Linked DNA regions of Homo sapiens: region 1 is linked to region 2. The links come from fine-mapping of genetic effects on gene expression. Tissue or cell type: lung. Region 2 holds a variant in brackets; the other region holds the start of a gene. Each region is shown on its reference strand, or each on the opposite one.

Region 1 (2,887 bases), not on the chromosome of region 2:
GTGAGTGCAGGTGAGAGATGGAGGAGGGTCCTGCCTGACTTCTTTCTGGGGTGGAGGGGCTAGAGAGAAGCTAGAGGTAATTAAGCCCAGGTTGTGGTGGTGGTGGTGGGGGTTTCCCTTGGTGGAGTAAAGAGATTGTGAAGGAAAGAAGAGAATGTGGGCCAGGTGTGGTGGCTCACGCCTGTAATCCTAGCACTTTGGGAGCCCAAGGCGGGCAGATCACCTGAGGTCAGGAGTTCAAGACCAGCCTGGACAACATGGTGAAATCCCATCTCTACTAAAAATACAAAAATTAGCTGGGTGTGGTGGTGTGCACCTGTAATTCCAGCTACTCGGGAGGCTGAGGCAGGAGAATTGCTTGAATCCAGGAGGCAGAGGTTGCAGTCAGCCGAGATTGTGCCATTGCACTCCAGCCTGGGCGACAGAGCGAGAGACTCCATCTCAAAACAAAAACAACAACAAAAAAAGAGAATGTGAATGATTTTTCCTATTTGCACAGACTTTGATATTTTACAAGCCTTAGCTTCAAGCCTGACGAGGAAGTAAAACCAAATCTGGAGTCAAAGAACCTAGCTTTGGCCCTAACTTGGTCGTTATTTGCTCTCTGACTGTGCACCAGTTCCTTCCCTTTCCTGGGTTTGCCATTTGTGCAATTAGGAGGTGGGCTTATTACAAAAAACCTGAAGGTGTCTCCTAGTCTTCACTTATTGAGTCTTGTACTTTAGATCTGGATGGAGATTTGTGAAGGCAAGGAGATTGAAGACATGTCCTCATAAGAGGGAGAAAATCTGAGCTGGTTCCAGGGTGAGCAGAGAGGAGGTGCTGTCGCCAGAGCATGCCCTCAAGGTCATGGGAGAAGTTTTTCCGGAGGACGAGAATGTGGGTGTGGCTCAGAGAGGGGGGACCTGGAGGGAAGGGTGTCACCTGGAAGGAACTGGTGATAGTCAGGACTGTGCAATCAGATCACGGGGCGGCTCCGCGATGGACCTTACTCAACTCCTCTCCTTAGTCCATCCCTTTCCCTTTCGATCCTTGCCTTAACCCAACCCCTTATCTGTCACTCCAAGACCCCACCCCACTCTGGTCACTCCATGGCTCTGCCTCCTCTCCTGTCACAACCAGCCGGGTTACTCCCCATCACTCCATGGGCCCACCTCCTCTCCTGTCCCGCCTGGCCCCGCCCCTCCCTTGGCACTCCACGGTTCCACCCTCTCCCTTGTCACACCCGGCCCCGCCCCTTCTGCTTTCACTCGACGGCGTCACTCCTTCCGGCAAGTCAGCTCCACCCCTATCCCTCGACTTTTCCTTATAGTATTTCTGTCCTTGCCAACCTCGATCCCTCCCCAACCAGACACGGCCCCGCCCCCTCTGGCACCGCCCACCCGCCAGACTAAGCCACTCCCCCACTCACCAGGCCCCGCCCCTCTACGGAGGCCCCGCCTCTAGTTCGGCCTGTTTTCTCAGTCCCGGCACCCGCCGCGACCGCAAAGGCGGCCGCGGTTCTAGGAACTTGACGTGATGGGGCTTCCTGAGGAGCGGGTCCGGAGCGGCAGCGGGAGCCGGGGCCAGGAGGAAGCTGGAGCCGGAGGCCGGGCGCGGAGTTGGTCTCCGCCGCCCGAGGTCAGCCGCTCCGCGCACGTCCCCTCGCTGCAGCGCTACCGCGAGCTGCACCGGCGCTCCGTGGAGGAGCCGCGGGGTGAGGCCCGGCCCGGGCGGGCCTGGGGTGTCAGTGAGGAGAAGAGTGGGGGCTCCCTGGGGGAGTCGGGGGCTCCCTTGGGAAGCTGAGGGGTGGGTGAGGAGATGGAGGTTCTGTGAAGGAAGAATTGCGGTTCTTTGAAAATGGAAAAGGGATTCCGGGAGGAGACGAGGGTTCCATGGGAGCTGGGGAGTTCCCTGCAGACTTGGAGGGTCCGTGGTGGAGATGCGGGTTTTTGCGAGGAGACGCGGGATTCCGTGAGGGAAGAAGTGAGGTTCCTTGAGATTGGGACGGGGAGGTCGGCCAAGAGAGTGAAAGTTTCATGGGAAGAGAAGGGGAGTTCCTGAGGCGAAAAGAGGGTCTCTAAGGGGCGACGGGAGCCTTGAAGGGAGGAGGGCCACGAATAGAACTTTCTTTGCTTCCCTTTCACACCAGCTCAGCCACTGCCTCCTGAGACCCTTAACCTGTGAACTGTTGAGGGCAATAACGGGTCTGGTTCCCATCTTGGGGTCCTCAGATTAGTAATGGAGTCCCCGATCTATTTTTAGTATATCGGACATCCTAATGGAAATTACGCGGTATAAGACTGAACGAGTTACTACGATGTCAAGTTGTTTTATTTATTTTTTTAACTTGGGCTGGGATTGTATTAGTAATAGTTCAGAAGTTCTGATAGATGGTTCCATGTCTGTTAAAATGTATGAGGAAAATCGGCCAGGAGCAGTGGCTCACGCCTGTAATCCCAGCACTTTGGGAGGCCGAGGCGGGCGGATCACTTGAGGTCAGGAGTTCGAGACCAGCCTGGCCAACATGGTGAAACCCCCGTCTCCACTAAAAATACAAAAATTAGCCGGGTGTGGTGGCGGGCACCTGTAATCCCAGCTACTCGAGAGGCTGAGACAGGAGAATTGCTTGAACCCAGGAGGCAGAGGTTGCAGTGAGCCACGATAGCACCACTGCACTCCAGCCTGGGCGACAGAGCAAGACTTTGTCTCAAAAAAAAAAAAAAAAAAAAAAAAAAAAAAAGGTATAAGGAAAATCCCCCTACCCTTGCCCTCAGTCTGGGTAAAGGACAGATAGATAGACAGATAGATAGATAGATAGATAGATAGATAGATAGTTTGTTTTGAGACAAGGTGTTGCTCTGTCACCCATGCTGGAGTGCAGTGGCCCGTTCTAGGCTCACTATAG
Region 2 (2,833 bases):
CATCTGGACCTGAGATGGAATCAATGAATTTCGATTTTATTGTGTTGACAGCTTGAATCACAGAAACAGCAGTGATTTTGTAATTGATGCCAGTGTCTGTTGACTAACTCTGCATATCAGATGCCAGCCATCAGTTAGAAGGGGGAATAAACTCAGCAACAATTAATAATGTGGTTAATGTTAAGTGTTTAAGTCCAGAAGGATGTCTGTGGAAGTTTTGCTGAGTGGTCAAAAAGATGCTCTGGTTAGGAAACTTTCTGTGAACCTATGTTAAATCCAATTAAGTCCCAGCTTGATGGCTTAGCTCTTTCATTAATTAAGATACTTTTCTGCCCAGGTGCCGTGGCTCACGCTTGTAATCACAGTACTTTGGGAGGCTGAGGTGGGAGGATCACTTGAGCATAGGAGTTCAAGACCAGCCCTGGGCAACATAGTGAGAACCCGTCTCAAAAAAAAAAAAAGGGATACTTTTCTATGGATTTTTGACTTTAATAATTTAAAATCTAAAGTATGTATGTCTTATATCTCACCCTCTCCTACCATAACCTGCAAACTAATCATGCTTTCCCCCACCTTTGGTGAGCTGCCACAGTTATTTGAAAACTTTTGAACCTTTGGGATGGGAGCATTGGATGTGTCTCTAATGGCAGAATTGAATAGTTTTTCTCTGATCAGCATCAATGGCATGGGCTGTTGTCATTCCACAACTCTAGGAAAATAAAGTTTGATCAAGACACCACAAAAGATCATCCCCTCATCCCCTTAGGGAGAAGAAAGGATTTCTTAAGAGTTTCTGCTCTCACCCTCCATAGACAACAACTCTGAATCCAAATGTAAGCTGAGATGTGGAGAAATTTTATCAGCATGTTTGCAGGTTAAAAAAAAAGAGAAGAAAATGAAGCCTTTCGAATGTCTATTGCAATCTGATTGTTTTAAAAGACAGAAATCCATAAAATGAGCTTGATGCCTGGAGCAGATCATAGCTTGTCTTCCTGCCACCCGTGTGCATTTTTTCCAAATTTGTACACTAACCTTCGGTCAACCCGCTCCAAAATTCCTGTTTTATAGTAGTATCTGAAAAAGCAAGCAGAAGAGAAATTCTGGGAGAGCTTGCACCCTAGGAAAACAACAGAACACAAACACTGTCTCCTCATTCCTCTCAGGTGACAAGGCTGGTCTTTGGTTACCCTGGTATTTTCATGCCCTGTTATCAACTTACACTTAAACCTTTCCCAGACATCTTGAAGACTGAAC[C/T]TCACCATTCTCAGCTCAAAACGTGTTTTTCTTTGTGTGTGTGGGCGTGTGAGATGGCCTGGATTCAGAGTGATCCCTGGGGAATGCTGCCAAGAATGCTAAGGACAGCGTGTCAATTTACAAACCATAATCCTACCTGTAACTAAGAACCAAAGTTTTGTCTCATGACCTTTCCATTATCAAGTAAAAAACCTGCAAAAACAGTGTAATTTTCTACAGCCAGCCATTGTATATAACTCTTCTTGAAGGCTCATAGTATTTTATGCTATTAACTTACCTCAGGGCTCTGCTCAACTTTTCATATGTCATTCTGTCATTTTTCTTCCTTTGTCCCCACATCTTTGCCAGGGCTTCCGATTTAACCACCCGAAAAATTCCTTGTTCCCTATCTTCCCATTCCAGAATGCCACAGTTTTCTTCAGGAGATAGAAGCAGGTCTCGTACAAATTCCCATAGATGAGAACTTTGGAGGCCTTTTGAAAAGGGGAAAACATTAACTATTTACCATTGTTTTTTAAATTAATTAATTAATTAATTAATTTTTTTGAGACAGAGTCTTGCTCTGTCGCCCAGGCTGGAGAGCAATGGTGCGATCTCGGCTCACTGCAACCTCTGCCTCCTGGGTTCAAGCGATTCTTCTGCCTCAGCCTCCCAAGTAGCTGGGATTATAGGTGCCTACCATCATGCCTGGCTAATTTTTTGTATTTTTAGTAGAGATGGGGTTTCGCCATGTTGACCAGGCTGGCCTCGAACTCCTGACCTCAGGTGTTGTACCCGCCTCAGCTTCCCAAAGTGCTGGGATTACAGGTGTGAGCCACCGTGCCCAGCTTGTTTTTTTAATTTTAAGAGAAGAGATGTACAATTTCTCACTAGGTCATGAGAATTGCTGCTTTGTGGAATATTTCCCATTGTTATGACTGATTGCTCTACCTGGAAACTTACTGAGCTGTGACATGTCTGTGTCTCCCATCGAAGCAATTGTGAAACACACATTCAGAGACACCCAATTTACATGACTGGCAACACTGTGACTCACAGATGTTCTATGGAACTACAGTTTAACTTTTATGGAATGAGTGAAATGACAGTCAAATGATCTTTTCATTCTTCTTTCTGACAGGCAGCATGGTTGTACTGATTCCACAGCCACAACTGTCTGGGTGGACTGATCCTGCAAATTCGTTTTTCATGAAAGGCTGGTATTTCTCTTATTCTATGATATGGTGGTTAAGACCAGCTCTGGAGTCCCATTATCTGAGTCTGGGTCCTGAATTCACCTCTTCCTACCTTTATAACCATAAACTTTTAGGGTTGCTTCATCTATAAAATGGGATAATAAAGAGTACCTGTCTCCTAGGACAGGTTAGAGGATTTAATGATTTAATACATACCAAGTGGTTAGAATTATGCCCAGCACATAGCAATTGTTTTCTACACACACATTTGTGAAATTACAAGCTTGACACTGCTCTGGGCCGATCTCTTAGTGCTGGGGAAGCTAATAGGATTGCCAATTCCCGGTGTTTTCTTTGTTATCCTCCTCTGAGATGAAGCCACAGTGGACCCAGGATTGGATCTG

Evidence for each region. PIP is the estimated chance that this variant, and not a neighbour inherited with it, causes the effect. A credible set is the group of variants that fine-mapping cannot tell apart.
Region 1: it holds the start of ACSS2, and the variant in region 2 is the best candidate, but not a certain one, in a credible set for the expression of ACSS2 in lung (TOPMed, PIP 0.84).

The regions. Positions count from the first base shown.
Region 1 is chr20:34,875,128-34,878,014 of GRCh38, forward strand. It overlaps ACSS2 (acyl-CoA synthetase short chain family member 2), which reads left to right and starts at 1,485. Exons shown (of 18, transcript NM_018677.4): 1 at 1,485-1,696. The coding sequence starts at 1,519. RefSeq lists enhancers at 704-783, 804-853 and silencers at 1,124-1,263, 1,344-1,773.
Region 2 is chr11:34,479,241-34,482,073 of GRCh38, forward strand. It overlaps ELF5 (E74 like ETS transcription factor 5), which reads right to left. Exons shown (of 7, transcript NM_001422.4): 6 at 1,532-1,727; 7 at 1-1,074. The coding sequence ends at 978. Among named protein-coding and RNA genes, the nearest start is that of ELF5, 33 kb to the right of the region's middle. The variant C/T (reference allele first, on the strand shown) is at 1,255.